2 separate regions of the Homo sapiens genome follow, and region 1 is linked to region 2. A link means that fine-mapping ties the variant in region 2 to the expression of a gene that starts in the linked region. Tissue or cell type: pancreas. Region 2 holds a variant in brackets; the other region holds the start of a gene. All regions are shown on one strand. Distances are from middle to middle.

Evidence for each region. PIP is the estimated chance that this variant, and not a neighbour inherited with it, causes the effect.
Region 1: PPAT starts here. The variant in region 2 is fine-mapped to the expression of PPAT in pancreas (GTEx, PIP 0.94).

The regions. Positions count from the first base shown.
Region 1 is chr4:56,431,374-56,439,615 of GRCh38, forward strand. It overlaps PPAT (phosphoribosyl pyrophosphate amidotransferase), which reads right to left and starts at 4,242. Exons shown (of 11, transcript NM_002703.5): 1 at 3,977-4,242. The coding sequence starts at 4,104. It overlaps PAICS (phosphoribosylaminoimidazole carboxylase and phosphoribosylaminoimidazolesuccinocarboxamide synthase), which reads left to right and starts at 4,887. Exons shown (of 9, transcript NM_001079524.2): 1 at 4,887-4,955. The coding sequence starts at 4,940. RefSeq lists enhancers at 3,947-4,126, 4,974-5,857 and silencers at 4,217-4,416, 4,557-4,846.
Region 2 is chr4:57,241,398-57,249,639 of GRCh38, forward strand. No RefSeq gene overlaps it. Among named protein-coding and RNA genes, the nearest start is that of IGFBP7, 140 kb to the left of the region's middle. The variant A/G (reference allele first, on the strand shown) is at 4,071.

The DNA.
Region 1 (8,242 bases), 810 kb before region 2:
TCTCACAAGTGCCTTTCCAGTGGTAATGTTCTGTACTCTGTTTGCAGAACCAGTGTCTAAATCTCTTAAGAAAAGTGCTCCTGAGATCATTACAAATCAGTTTCCTCAAAGCGTAATAACAGAACCAAAAGATTCTACAGAATGTTTCTGCAGACAGAAAACCCAACTTCATCAGGTAAATCTTATAAATTTTTAGAAGTATGAAAATGTTTGTCATTGTAAGGTTCAATTCCTAACCAGGAGAAGTGATAATTCATTGAATGGAAGGGCATGGTTATCTCCTAATCAAGGAAAGGCTAATTAGCTGATTCATGGCATAAATCTACAGACATTTACTAATTCCTTTTATGGAATCTTCAAATATGTCCAGGCCATTCTAGTCTCCATAAAATGTGACTGTGTTTTAAAGATGAAAATGTTTATTCTAAGAAGGGGTGTCTGGTTTGTTCAGAACTCCGCAAACTACTGAAATGATGTTTTCAGGACCAAAACAGCATTTGGTGATTATATAAATCAGGCATGAACATACCCACACACATGCATGCACAGTTTACAGCTAAGAGGACATGTGAAAATTCCCCTACAGAAAGCAGAGCTACGGAATAAATCTGAAGACAGCCAGAACTACTAAAAACGGGGAGTACATCTGGATGAACCCATCTGGGTTAAATATCCAGTGCATGACTGGCTTAACTAATTGATACTCTATTTATTTTTATATGAAATGGCTAATATACCTTCCAGGTATTCTGTTAACCCCAGGACTAAATGTTTCAGATTAGATTATACCCAAGACAAAAAACTGGACCAAATACAAAACAAAAGTGATAGAAATCTCACCTTCTAGATTCCATCTTCTTAAAGATAAGGTTGGCCAGGCATGGTGGCTCACGCCTGTAATCTCAGCACTTTGGGAGACCGAAGAGGGTGGATCACTTGAGGCCAGGAGTTCAAGACCAGCCTGGTCAACATGGTGAAACCCCGTCTCTGCTAAAAATACAAAAATTACCTGAGTGTGGTGGCGGGCGCCTGTAATCCCAGCTACTCGGGAGACAGGTACGAGAATCACTTGAACTTGGGAAACGGAGGTTGCAATGAGCCCAGATCATACCACTCCACTCCAGCCTAGGTGACAGAGTGAGACCCTGTCTCAAAAAAAAAAAAAAAAAAGGGAGGCCAAGGCGGGCAGATCACGAGGTCAGGAGATCGAGACCATCCTGGCTAACACAGTGAAACCCCGTTTCTACTAAAAATACAAAAAATTAGCCGGGCGTGGTGGGGGGCGCCTGTAGTCCCAGCTACTCGGGAGGCTGAGGCAGGAGAATGGCGTGAACCCGGGAGGCGGAGCTTGCAGTGAGGGGAGACTGCGCCACTGAACTCCACCCCAGCCTGGGAGACAGCGAGACTCTGTCTCAAAAAAAAAAAAAAAATCAAGAAGATAATATATAAGAAATAAATTCCTTCATCAAAAAGGAAAAAAACACAATCAAACCTTTTTGCAGTTGTTTTAAAACTAACCAGTGAGTGAATGAGGGTGAGAAAGTGAAAACAGAGCTTTCTGCAACAGACCACCACTTCTCAGAGTACGATATATATATACATATATACATACACACACGTATTTTATATATATATATATAAAACTAAACTAAAAGAAAAAGTTCTTAGTTTTATTCTGGCCCTTATCTATCAGTTTCGAGCAGCAGATAATTGTATTTCCAAGACATAAGGGAGTGTCATTGTTCTTCCAAGCAGAATCAGTCCTCCCAAAGGATGAGCACTTTAGCTCATGTAAAATTTTGAATTGATTATGGGTGAGAACCAGCCCTCTTTGTGCACCTTAATGATTCTATGCCTACACAAGAGAAATGTTAAATTGTTTTTCAGTAATACATTTGTTCCTCAAAACCACATAATCACATCATTATTGCCCTTATCTGGTATTATTTAATCTTACAATTCTTTCACAGAAAAGCAACTATAGAAAACAGATATATGTAACCAGGAATCAAATGGTATTCATTAAAAAAAAAAAAAAAGAAAAAAAAAACCTATAACCATGAATACCAAGTATTTTCCTAAACTGGGTACTAAAACTCCAACCAGTGCTAACATGTAAGTTAAAAAAAAAAAAAAGCCTCTTTTTCTTCAGGCACACATTTAAAGGGAAGGAGAAAGGGGGATGAAAATTTCTTGAATAACTTTGGCAAAAAAAGTAAATATAGTGAAGTACAGTTCATACATATTTTCTACAGACCACCAGGCAACCCTAAAGACCTCTAGATTCTCCCTCACCCCCATGACAGAGTATCCAAAATAACAACTGTTTTTTTTTTTTTGAGACGGAGTCTCGCTCTGTCGCCCAGGCTGGAGTGCAGTGGCGTGATCTCTGCTCTCTGGAACCTAAGCCTCCCGGGTTCAAGCGATTCTCCTGCCTCAGCCTCCGGAGTAGCTAGGACTACAGGAGCGCATCACCACACCCAGCTAATTGTATTTTTAGCAGAGATGGGGTTTCACCATGTTGGCCAGGATGGTCTCGATCTCTTAACCTCGTGATCCGCCCGCCTCGGCCTCCCAAAGTGCTGGGATTACAGGCGTGAGCCACCGCGCCTGGCCATAGTTTCTAAGAATGTTACAAACTAATGTTGCTCACAACTACCACATAATCAAGAGTTTACTTTCTCCTTGGATTACGTAACTAATTTTCTCAATAAACTTTTTTTAAAAAAAACAAGAAATCTATTATGGTCAACCCACAATTATCCAAGATTGGAGCTACGCAAGTTAAAAATATTCTTTTTGATGCTTCCCACATTCTCAGCTCTTTAGTAAACAAGGAACACACAAAATGTGAAACTGAAATTGAAGTACCTGGGACAATGAAAACAGCAAAAAATACTTCTAATTTAAGTTTGGTGGAGGAAAAGCTAATCTTTTGGAATGCGTTTATACGTGTTGCACCCATTTTGCTGTTACGTGTTATTGCCAAGTTCCTTAACTGTAGTGTAAGTTGTTACCACTGTATTGCCTTATGGAAACTGTAATACTTTCAGTAAGAATATCAAACCCAGGTTTGTTTTTCTTATCCTAGTGTAATAATTTATATCAACTTCCAGTTAAGTCAGGTAGTAAGAAAAGGAAAGATCACCGAAGCAAAGTAATTTTTTTTAACTCGAAAGGATCTCCCAATTTTTCAAAATCAAGTGTATGGATCTTGGCATAGAGACACTACTCCCCTGTCCCCCTTTTGAAGAAGGGAGTTAATTTTTGTCATGTTATTACCAACGTTTTCATTCATTAGGCAAGACGTCTACCAATGAATCTTTTCCAGATGCACTGTTCCCTATGGTTGGCTTATTTCCATTTAATTTATGTGAGATCTACTACCAGTAGTCATTCTCAACATCAACTAGTCATCTTTCCCTGGGTCTGAAGTCTAGCATCCTCAAGTTCCCATAGCGATAACTACTTTCAAACCCATAATCTGCTCAATAGCTCTGCCCTTGCAAACAAAAGCTTGTGGTGGTTGGAGGCCCCGCGCGAAAACCTTTAGGTGTTGAAGGACCTGGACTGGCCGCCACGCCACACTAGCCTATTACAGGAGCAGCCACAGGCTCCGGGAGACTAGAACCCGCCTGCAGTCGGGGAGGAGCCCTGACCCAGCTAGACCAAGCAAACCGGCGGTTTACAAGCTGGCCAGCCTCTGGATGGGTGCACACACCGGGGGGCGGGGAGGGAGAGAGCCCCTAAAAGGCATAAGTGGCTGGGAGGGTGGGCAGGACAGGCTAAAGTTCATGGAAGCGAGGTGCCCCTCGTGCACGCCTAGGCAACCCGGTCGACGCCACAGGCAGGTACTGGCTTAGGTCGGAGAGGTCGGTCCTCCCGGGCCCTCGGGCGCTCATGAGAACGCCGACTGCGGGAAGCGGCTCCGAGAGATGGAGACGCACGCCCCCGCCACCCCCACCCTGTTGCTCACCGGTGCTGCAGCCCCACGAGTCCCAGAGTGATCACATGCGGTACATCCAGCTGCGTGGGCCACTCTCCTGAGGCGATGCACCCGAACACGCCACATTCCTCTCGGATCCCCAACTCCTCCAGCTCCATGTCGCCGCCGAAAGCACGTGGAAGGACCTGCCGCTGCGGCCAAGGTGTAAGCACCAACCAGCTGCCAGCTCGGCCCGTCGAGCTCAGAAGCTCGCGCTCGCGACAGGCTCTTCCTTCCCGAGGGTGGCCCCAGCTACTGCGGCGGCGCGCGCTGTCCCTAGGTGGCGTGGCCAGCTCAGCCCTGCTCCTCCCCCTCCGAGTCCACCAACGAGCGAGGGCGGAGGGGCGGTCCCGCGGCTGAGGGGCGGGGTCACGGATGCTGTAGGGTGGAGCTAGCCTTCCCCTAAGAGCTGCCTGGAAAGCTGTATTTGCTGCACGTGGAAATCTCCGTTATTTTCCAGCACCCAACAGTAGCGTAATGGGAGTAACGGACTTAACCTCATTTCTCTTTCAGAGCATTTAGCCTTCATATGCCCTTCCCTGCATGCTTCCCCCAGGCCGTCAAGACTTGGTACGCTCCAACTTCTGAGTCGCTCCCGCAGCCGAGAAGGGGCCGGGGTATGCGAGCTTCCGCAGAGTGGGGAGGGGCCGCCAGTGCGCGCCACTTTTCGCCTGTCCGGGCACTGCGCCAGCGCGGGGCGGCCCGGAGGCGGGGTCGCGTCTCTGCGCCTGCGCGGCGGGAAGCCAGTGGGGCGTTGTTTCGTCCGATATCCGCGTTTCAGTCTCCGCCCATACCCCTCCGGGTTAGGCGGCTGTAGCGGAGCTCGAAAAGAGTGGCGCAGGGTCGCGCGGCCCCGCCTCCTTCCCCGCCCAGCGAAGCTCTCTGACCACCCCTCTTTTCTAGAGTTCTGCCTCGCTTCCCGGCGCGGTCGCAGCCCTCAGCCCACTTAGGATAATGGCGACAGCTGAGGGTGAGTAACAGGGATCCGGGCCCTTCACGGTCTCCCTGACCCCCAGGCCGTGAGCTCGCGGCCACGTGCGAGCCGCGAAACTCTGTCCCGCCTCCCTGCAGCAGCGCCTCTAGGCAGCCGCGCGGGCGCACACGTGGCCCAGGCGCTCCCGGGCCTCCCCGAACTTTACTGCCTCGGGGATGGGGAGAAGGAGCAAAGTAGAGGAGAACGAGAAATGGCCAAGGGGTGGAAAGGTGCCTGGAAGTATTATTTATAATCAATAGCTATTGCAAAATACAAGCAAATCAGTCTTGATTCGTCAAAACCTGAGTCTTGCTTTGCCCGTTAGGTTAATGACCTTTCTAAGAAGGTTAATAATTGAAACTTTTGAAAGACCTGTCTAGAGGCCGGGCCTGGTGGCTCACGCCTGTAATCCCAGCACTTTGGGAGGCCAAGGCGGGCGGATCACCTGAGGTCAGTAGTACGAGACCAGCCTGGCCAACATGGCGAAACCCCGTCTCTTACTAAAAATACAAAAAATTAGCTGGACGTGGTGGCGCGCGCCTGTAATCCCCAGCTACTCAGGAGGCTGAGGTAGGAGAATCGCTTGAACCCGGAGGCGGAGGTTGCAGTGAGCCGAGATCGCGCCATTGCACTCCAGCCTGGGCGACAAAGCGAGACTCCGTCTCAAAAAAGAAAAAGAAAAACCTGTCTAGGGGGCGTGTGTGTAAGTAGTCTTTGATGCCATGGTGTGTGTGTGTGTGTGCACGCGCGCGTGAAGTAGTCTTTGATGCCACGATAGCTTGGGGTGTGTGTACGTGCGTGTGCGTGTTTAAGTAGTCTTTGATGTCATGGGTGTGTATGTGTGTGCGCGCGCGTGTTGAAGTAGTCTGATTCCATGATGGCTGGGGAGGGGGGCTGTTTTTAGGTAGTCTTTGATGCCATGATGGTGTGTGTGTGTGTGTGTGTGTGTGTGTGTGTGTGTGTGTGTTCGTTCCAGTAGTCTTTGATGCCACGATGGCTTTGAAGAACTCCAAAACCTTTAGGCAAAAAAGTTGCACTATCAGGAAAGATTGTTCTTGCTATTTATGCTGGAAAAAAACAAATGCTGGTTTTTTCCACACACCCAGTTGCTATATGTATAGTGAGGCAAATTGCTTTTGTGGCTGCTGGGTACATTCTTTTCCACATAGAAAGTAACTGAATTCAGATTTTAAAAAGCTGTAGACTCAGGCCGGGCGCTGTGGCTCACGCCTGTAATCCCCAGCACTTTGGGAGTCCCAGGCGGGCGGATCACGAGGTCAGGAGATCGAGATCATCCTGACCAACATGGTGAAACCCCGGCTCTACTAAAAATGCAAAAATTTGCTGGACGTGGTGGCGTATGCCTGTAATCCTAGCTACTCGGGAACCTGAGGCAGGAGAATCACTTGAACCGGGGAGTCAGAGGCTGCAGTGAGCCGGGATCGCGCCACTGCACTCCAGCCTGGCGACAGAGAGAGACTCTGTCTCAAAAAAAAAAAAAAAAAAAAAAAAAAGCTGTAGACTCAGCAAAAAAGATTCAGATGATATTGAGTATCAACTCCCTAGAATCAAGGCAAGGACCAGAATTTTTCTTGCAATCATGGTACCTGTACCTCTAAAATGGCAAATCTCTAAAATCTTTGCTCTTCCACTTCTTTCCATTTGTGTACCGTTGGCAGGTTGATTTTTCTTAAATGTCACTTTTATGGTCTCTAAAAGGCAAAAGTGGCAACAAAGGCAAAAATGGCATCTCTAGAGATGTTAAATCCAGTCTGTCCAGTCTGAAATCCCTTTTCATTCAAATCCTGAATACTGCTATCCCTTCTACCTCTTCAGCCCTAACTTTGATTTTTCTCTCCTGTGAATCCTTAGCTATGTTCCAGTCAGGTTAATTCACCAAAGTTTGTTTTTCATTATATACATTTTATTTATATTATTTTTCCCAGAACATTGCTGGCTAATGGAAATATAATGTAAATTTGTCTTCTATAAGCCACATTTTAAAAAGTAAAATAATAAAAAAAACTGGTGCAATGTGTTTATATATATATATATATATATATATATATATAAAAGGTTTTTTTTGTTGTTGTTTTTTGTTTGTTTTGCTTTGTTTTTGAAATGGAGTCTCGCTCTGTGTGGCCCAGGCTGGAGTGCAGTGGCAAGATCTCAGCTCACTGCACCCTCCACTTTCCAGGTTCAAGTGATTCTCCTGCCTCAGCCCCCCAAGTAGCTGGGATTACAGGCACACTCCACCACACCCGGCTAATTTTTTTTTGTATTTTTTAGTAGAGTCAGGGTTTTGCCATGTTGGCCAAGCTGGTCTCAAACTCCTGACCTCAAGTGATCTGCCTGTCTCAGCCTCCCAAAGTGCTGGGATTACAGGCGTGAGCCCATTTTAATATATTTTATTTAACCCTATATACACAAAATACATTTCAACATGGAGTCAAGATGAAAAATTCTTTAGATATTTTACAATTTTTTATATCGAATGCAGTATATATTTTAACAAATGACATTTCAACTTGTAATAGCCACATTTCTAGTGGCTGCCTTATTGGACAGCAGAGTCCTAGAATTTTCTTATCCTTTGTGTAAATTCTGTGCTTTCCCAGACTCTTAAATTTCAATTCCATGAATCATTTTCAGTCCTCATCAATCTTTCCAGAATTCATCTACAAATTTGTAGCAACCATTTTGGTACTTGCAGGGTATGTCACGTATGGTTGTTTCTTATGTTGTTTCTACCCATTAATTCAAATTCCTTCCCTCTTTAATGACTAAGTAATACAGATTCAACTAAATTAAGGGGAGGGGCATTAGATACAAACTTTGCCCGGGCTTACTGCATATTAATATATATAAATGTTAATTTCTTTATCTGATCTGGGCACTGTTTTTTTTGTTTTTGTTTTTTCTTGAGACGGAGTCTCCCTCTCTTGCCCAGGCTGGAGTGCAGTGGCGCCATCTCAGCTCACTGCAACCTCCGCCTTTCAGGTTCAAGCGATTTTCCTGCCTCAGCCTCCCAAGTAGCAAGGATTACAGGCGTGCACCAACACATCCGGCTAATTTTTGTAATTTTAGTAGAGACAGGATTTTACCATGTTGGTCAGCCTGGTCTTGAACTCCTAACCTCAAGTGATCCGCCCGCCTCGGCCTCCCAAAGTGCTGGGATTACAGGCATGAGCCACTGTTCCCGGCCCACTGTTCTTTACCCTTCCCTCTCTTTTATCCTCCATGATGAATTCTCAAAGCTACTATCTTAAATATCTTGCATCTTT
Region 2 (8,242 bases):
TTCGTGGGGCTTAAAAGACTCACATTAGAGATGAAAAACCAAACAATCCCTGTCCCCCTCAAACCAAAAGCTACTGGTGCTCAATTCACTAGGCAGAGAAGAATGGAGAAACTATGACCCTGGTTTCTTAAGCATTTGCTGACCTCCCCTAGGTTCAGTTTAAAGAGTCTTAGCCTCTTTGTGGTGATTCTCAGAACTATGATATTTCAGGGTTGGGAGGCACTTGGGTTAATATCTAGTCCAATCAAATACCTAGGGCTTGAATTTTTTCTTTTGTATCTTTACCAAAAGATCACAGCTTTGAATACATCTTGAATGCTTTCAGTCTTGAATACATCCAGAGGTGGGGAGCTCACTACCTTATGAGATATCTCATTTCATTTATGGTCAACTCTGTAGGAAATTTTTTACGTTGAACAAAAATCAATTCAAATGCTTTTACTGAGTGCATACTATGCTTCAGGTATTAAGTTCTGAGGATCTAACAAGTGAGCAAAATAGAAAGCAATCTCTGTGCTTTTGGAGTTTGCTTCCTACAGAAGAGAGACAGAATAAAGGCAAGTAAAATGAAGAGCACGACTGGGACAAGTAAGAAAGAAAGAGAATGCCAGGGGCGGACACTTGCAGTCTTAACTAGTGTGGTTAGGAAAGGCCTCATGGACAACTGACTTTCAAGTGGAGTCCTGAAAGAGCCATGTGAGTATCAAGGGGAAGAGCATTCCAGCAGCAGAAACAGTAAGCGCAAAGGGCCTGAGGCAGGTTTATGGAGCAGTGAAGAGGCCAGTGTGATTGGAATGGGGAAGGCAAAGGGGAGGATGGTGAGATATGAGGTTAGAAAGGGAATGGGAGGCAGACCATGGGAGCCAGACCCATGGGGCCTTGGGAGTCTTTGTAAGGATACCGTATTTTACTCTAAACATGATAAGGAGTCATTGGAGGGTCCTAGTACGATTTGACTTAAGTTATAGAAAATTTGCTCTGCAAATAGACTGTATGGGAAAGTAAGTGGGCTTAGGGAGAGCAGTTAGAGACTGCTGCGGAAGTTCGGGCCAGAGACAATGGCATCTTGGTGTGCAAAGTGTGTGGGCTCAGGATGTATTTTGAATAGTGCTCTTTGAGTTTCACCTGCGGATCCTAGCATTATCTCCTGGGGCTTAACACATGTGGTCCTCATGCATATATTCGGACCAAGGTAAAAATAAGGCAAATGCCACTTATTTCTTCCTTTTGACTCTTCCCAGCCCTCTTACTTCTTCCTCATAAGCAACCATCCTAAAGCATATGATGTGTATTTTTCTATTTGTATGAGTTCTTGTAAAACATGTACTTTTTTGTCACAGATTTTTTTTTTTTTTGAGATGGAGTCTCCCTCTGTTGCTCAGGCTGGAGTGCAGTGGTGCGATCTCAGCTCACTGCAAGCTCCGCCTCCCGGGTTCAAATGATTGTCCTACCTCAATCTCCCAAGTAGCTGGGGCTACAGGCACGTGTCACCATGCTTGGCTAATTTTTGTATTTTTAGTAAAGACAGGGTTTCACCATGTTGGCCAGGCTGGTTTCAAACTCTTGACCTCAGGTGATCCACCTGCCACAGCCTCCCAAAGTGCTGGGATTACAGGCCTGAAGCACCACGCCCGGCCTGTCATAGATTTAAAAAATTTTTAAAACTTAAATACCTGACTTTGTGCTATAGATCACCTTCTGTTTCTTTCTGTATTTTAAAAATCAATCTGCATTGCTGAATGTACTGAGTCTGCTGCTTCTGGCTGAAGCGACTTCTTCAAATGAGACAGCTGAGCTGTGAAAAACTCTGTTAGCACCTGTTTCCCTGGAGCCTTCTTCTTTCCAGTCCAAGCCTGTTCACTTCTTCCACTGTTCCCACATAACATGGCTTTGAGCCTTCTCTTGGCCTGGCCACTCTCTTTTGAGCCTTCCACGGCCTATTTTGGCTCATAGTCTTGGGCTTCTGAGAACAGAATCTATGCCTGAAAACCACTTGCCATTTTTCAGGCCTGTAAACAAGGTTCAGTAGCTGAGAAATGGGTGTGGGGACTTGGACTAAGAAAATAGAAGCTACAGGACAAAGAGAGCCCCTAGACTCCACATGTACCCAGAGCAGACTTTGCTTCAATTTTTTTGGGCAGTATAGAGTAGTGGTTAAGAATTTTGGCTCTTAGATTAGATAAATTTAGGCTTGTCTACTCATTCTCCTTCCTACTACACTCTGTGTTACTTTGGGTAAATCACTCAACTTCTCTGAGCTGCATTTTCTTCTTCTGTAAAATTGTGATAATCAGAAATAATTTTGTGAGGCTGTTATTAGATGCAATACTGTATGCAAACTTCTTGGCGCAGAGCCTGATACAGGGTGGGCCCTTGGTAAATATTGGCTGTAATTTTTAAATATAAATTCATACAAACCCAGATTGTCATGAAAATGAAATATGGAGCATTCATTTGCATCACAAAAGATATTAAAAGATTCTCTTTAATAACAATTTCTCTAGTGTATTTCTATAATTTAAATGACCCAAACTGGGTTTTGATGCTGCTTTTCAACAGTATAGATTGTATAGAGCTTGATTTACCTGTATTATGACAGTGAGGGAGATGCCCCACATGACCGTGAGAGATATTTTGAGATTTCCTGTCTATACACAGACATAGTGGTATTATATGTGTTCCCTCTGCCCCCAACCCTTGTCTCTGCCCTGTCTCCTCTCTCAGACTTTTCACAATGGTAATCCCAGCAGTGGGTTATACTTTTTAAGAAATCTTGAGGCTAACACTATATTCCAAGAAGTGGTGCATTCTGTTTTTTCCAGTAAAAACCTACAGTAAATGAAAATATAGAAGTAGAGGACTTGAAGAGACCAGAAGAGTTTGGTGTCATTGAATCCACAGGATTGGAAGGGAACTCAGTGGTCATCAAATCCTCCCTTCTCTTTCTGTAGATGAGGACACTAAGGCTTATGGTGGTGGAGAGACTTGGCTAAGGTCGCCCAGCTTATAAACAGCACAGCAGGAATGCAGACTTCCTGTCCAGCATTCTTTCTTCAACTCATGGTTCCTGGTAAGAATTGGATTTTCATCACCCATTTTTATTCAAGGAATGGAATTTGCACTTTCCCTTGGCATTCTATCCTAGTAAGAAAGTTTTTACTTCAACTTATCCCAATTCCCCCCCTTTTTTTTTTAGAAAGAGTCTCACTCTGTCACAAGGCTGGATTGCAGTTGCATGATCTCGGCTCACTGCAACCTCCACCTCCTGGGTTCAAGTGATTCTCCTGCCTCAGCCTCCCAGGTAGCTGGGACTACAGGTGCCTGCCACCACGCCCAGCTAATTTTTGTATTTTTGTAGAGACGGGGTTTCACCATGCTGGCCAGGATGGTCTCGATCTCTTGATCTTGTGATCTGCCTGCCTCAGCCTCCCAAAGTGCTGGAATTACAGGTGTGAGCCACCGCGCATGGCCCCAATTCCCTCTTTGAACAATTTAAATACCCAAACTCAGCCTGCCATAGAACTATCATAGATCTATGTCATTCTGGATATGGCCCAGAGAAAGGGAACACAGTGCAGGCTACACGCACACAGTCTGTTTTTACCTCCTTTTGCCCCCAACTTGAACTTCTTAAAGGCTGCTCCTCACTTCACTCCTTCCCCTCTATTTAATGTCTCTGCCACTAGAATGTGAGCACCAGGAGAGCCAGGTCTTCATCTGTTTTATTCTCTGGTGTATAAACAGAGCCTGGCATAAAACAAGAGCTAAGTGGATGCTTGCTGAAGGACTAATACACTTATTGAGTGCCTGCAATGTTCCAGGCACTCTTCTTGGCACACTGGGCACACATCCTCCCTTAGTACTAGGAATACGAAGAGGAGAGAAAAAAATATCTGTCTCTGATAGAGAAGCAAGGTTTAAGTTCACCCTGCCTCTCTCTGGCAGACTCAGAGGAAATCTTTTGACCAAAAAACAAGTAGCTTCTCTCCCTAACCCTCACATCATAATAGCATGTCATCATGCCTCACCATGCTACCACAGGCCACACACATGTGGATGTGTGTACATAT[A/G]CACATACACACAAGAGTCAGTTTTAAGTGACTGAAGTAGCAACTAAATTTCCATCTGTTTCCCTAATGTATATTTCTTACAGCCTTGCATGGTACAGGTACCTAAAATTCACACTATCAGAATGATTCTCTGGGTTAAGGAACATCTATAATAGTCCCATTTTGTTTGTTTATTACAAATAATTTCAACTTTTATTTTAGTTTCAGGAGGTGCATGTGCAGGTTTTTTACATGGGAATATTGTGTGATGCTGGGTTTTGGGGTATGATTGATCCTGTCACTCAGGTAATGAGCATAGTACCCAATAGTTACAACCCTTGCTCCCACTTTCTCTCCCTTCTAGTAGTCCCCAGTGCCTATTTTTGCCATCTTGATGTCCACGAGTACCCAATGTTTAGCCCTCACTTAGTGAGAACATATGGTATTTGGTTTTCTGTTCCTGCATTAATTTGCTTAGGACAATGGCCTCTAGCTGCATCCATCTTGCTGCAAAGTACATGATTTTGTTCTTTTTTATGGCTGCATAGTATTCCACGGTGTTTATAAACCCTATTTTCTTTATCCAATCCACTTCCAGTGGGCACTTTGATTCCATGTCTTTGCTATTGTGAATAGTGCTGTGATAAACATACAAGTGCATGTCTTTTTTTTGTAGAACAATTTATTTTCCTCTGTAGACCCACTTTAAATTATAAAGATTTTATCCAGAGACTCCAAAGGTTCTTTATTAGCAACACTGATATGTTCACATGAATTAATTTTTCGGGTCAATGATAGAAATGGACAGAACAGAGGGCATCCAAGAGCTTCCTTAAGAGGAAGTCAAACTGTCACCGTTTGCTGATGATATGAGTGTATACCTAGAAAACCCTGAAGACTCATCCAAAAAGCTCTTAGAACTGGTAAATGAATTCAGCAAAGTTTCAGGATACAAAATTAGTACAGACAAATCAGTAGCTCTGCTATACACCGATAGTGACCAAGCTGAGAATCAAATCAAGAATTTAACCCCTTTTACAATAGCTGCGAAACAAAACAAAACAAAAAACAACTTAGGAATATACCTAACCAAGGACGTGAAAGACCTCTGCAAGGAAAACTGCAAAACAATGCTAAAAGAAATCATAGATGACACTAACAAATGGAAACACATTCCATGCTCATGGCTGGGTAGAATCAATATTGTGAAAATGACATACTCCCAAAAACAATGCACAAATTCAATGCAATTCCCATAAAAATAACTTCACCATTCTTTACAGAACTAAAAAAAAATCCTAAAATTCATATGGAACCCAAAAAGAGCCCACATAATCAAAGCAAGACTAAGCAAAAAGAATAAATCTGGAGGCATCACATTACACAACTTCAAACTATACTATAAGGTCATAGTCACCAAAACTACATGGTACTAGTATAAAAATAGGCACATTTTATAGAATAGAATAGAGTCTGTTCTATAAAACAGAATAGAGAACAGAATAGAGAACACAGAAATAAAGCCAAATATTTACAGCCAATTGATCTTTGACAAAACAAACAAAAACATAAAGTGGAGAGGGGAAAGGACACTGTATTCAACAAATGGTTCTGGGATAATTGGCTAGCCACATGTAGAAGAATGAAACTGGATCCTCATCTCTCACCTTTTACAAAAATCAACTTGAGGTGGATCCAACACTTAAATATAAGACCAGAAACCATAAAGATTCTAGAAGATAACATCAGAAAAACCCTTATAGACATTGGCTTAGGCAAAGACTTCATGACGAAGAACCCAAAAGCAAATGCAACAAAAGCAAATATAAATAGATGGGACTTAAACCAAAAAGCTTCTGCACAGCAAAAAAATAATCAGCAGAGTTAACAGACAACCTACAGAGAAAATCTTCACAATCTATACCTCTGACAAAGGACTAATATCCAGAATCTACAAAAAACTCAAATAAATCAGCAAGAAAAAACAAATGATCCCAGCAAGAGGTGGGCAGATCGCGAGGTCAAGAGATCGAGACCATCCTAGCCAACATGGTGAAACCTTGTCTCTAGTAAAAATACAAAAATTAGCTGAGTGTGGTGGCACACGCCTGTAATCCCAGCTACTCCGGAGGCTGAGGCAGGAGAATTGCTAGAACTCAGGAGGTGGAGGTTGCAGTGAGCCAAGATCGTGCCACTGCACTCCAGCCCGGTGACAGAGTGAGACTCTGTTTCAAAAAAAAAAAAAAAAAAAAAAAAAAAAAGGTGGGCTAAGGACATGAATAGACAGTTCTCAAAAGAAGATATATAAATGGCCAACAAGCATATGGAAAAATGCTCAACATCACAAACTATCAGGAAAATGCAAATCAAAACCACAATGCAATATCACCTCAGTACTGCAAGAATGGCCATAATTTAAAAATCAAAAAATAATATATTCAGTGAAAAGGGAACACTTTTACACTGCTGGTGGGAATGTAAAATGGGGAAACAGAGGCTTAACAAAACAAAGACTAGGGAAAGTTAAATTATTTCCCTGGTACAGCTACTAGGGAAAACAGTGTGGAGATTCCTTAAAGAACTAAAAGTAGATCTACAGTTTGATCCAGCAATCCCACTACTAGGTATCTACCCAGAGGAAAAGAAGTCATTACACAAAAAAGATACTTGCACACGCGTGTTTACAGCAGCACAATTTGCAATTGCAAAAATGTGGAACCAGCTCAAATGCCCATCAATCAATGAGTGGATGAAGAAAATGTGATATATATATCATGTTTTATATATATATATAAAACATGGAATACTACTCAGCCATAAAGAGGGATGAAATAATGGCATTTGCAGCAACCTGGATGGAATTGGAGACTATTATTCTAAGTGAAGTAACTCAAGAATGGAAAACCAAGTATCATATGTTCTCACTCATATGTGGGAGTTAAGCTATGAGGACGCAAAGGCATAAGAACGATACACTGAACTTTGGGGAATTGGGGGAAATGGTGGGAGGTGGCAAGGGATAAAAGTCTACACATTGGGTACAGTGTACACTGCTGGGGTGATAGGTGCACCAAAATCTCAGAAATCACCGCTAAAGAAGCAACGCATAGACCGGTTACTTTGTGTATCACTGATGTAGAAGTCAGGCCACTGTCTGGGTAGGTAGGTCCTAGTGAGGCATTTGTGAGAAGATCCCTGGGCTTATAGGGGCCACAAGAAGGCTGTTCCTTAGAGGTGGGCAGGAAGGACAGAGGAGATCAATTTTGCTTACTTCACTTCATAGCTTTGCCTAAGGACTAGGCTTGACTTAAATGGAATGAATTTTTTTCTAAAAAAATTTGCTTCAGCATTTTGCCAAATGCTTGCTATAGGAGACACTCCACATATGTTGTTGTTCATCAGTGTGGAGCATTGAAAATAATCCGGAGTCGAACAGAAAAGAGTTCAAATCCACCGTTCTCTACTTTTAGCTGGGTGACATTGGGCAAGTTACTTAACTTTTCTGTTCCTTCATTTATAAAAACTTGAATGATAGAAGCCACCATATATGTTTTATTATATCAATTAAGTGCAGTAGCATCCCTAAAAGTAGATTTCCAGGCACTTGAGTGCTTTTTTGAGTAAACAGATTGAGTGATATCTTCCAGCATTATCTGATATACTCTTCTCCATGATTCTGTGAGGTGGCAACTATATGAGGCCCATTTTGTGAATGGGGAAACAGAGGCTTAACAAAGCAAAGACTAGGGAAAGTTAAATGATTTGCCTAAAGTTGGAGCCAGAGCAAAGATGACTCATAGATCAAAAGAACTGCTTGAAAGTAGCACCCACGATTTTCCTGCAGGCATTTTTGTTCTATTTGATACTAATGAGTTGGCTGTGTGGGCAGTGAGTTGATAAAGGAACATGAACTGAATCATTAAGCCTCCATTTTATTGTCTCCACTGTACAGATTTCACAACTGACTTGGGTGAGGAAATTCCACCAAAAACTTTAATATGGAAAAAAAGAGAAGGAAAAAAAAGGCAAGGTATCTCTAAATAGCTCTGCAAAGGTCAATGGGATTAATGTATCCTTTGAACATGGTTATTTTAGCTGAAATAAGAAAACAGCATGAGGGAACTTCACAGACTACTTGTGTAATAGAAATGTAATGTATTTGCCCCTTTTTTCTTCCTTTGTGGCAAACATGT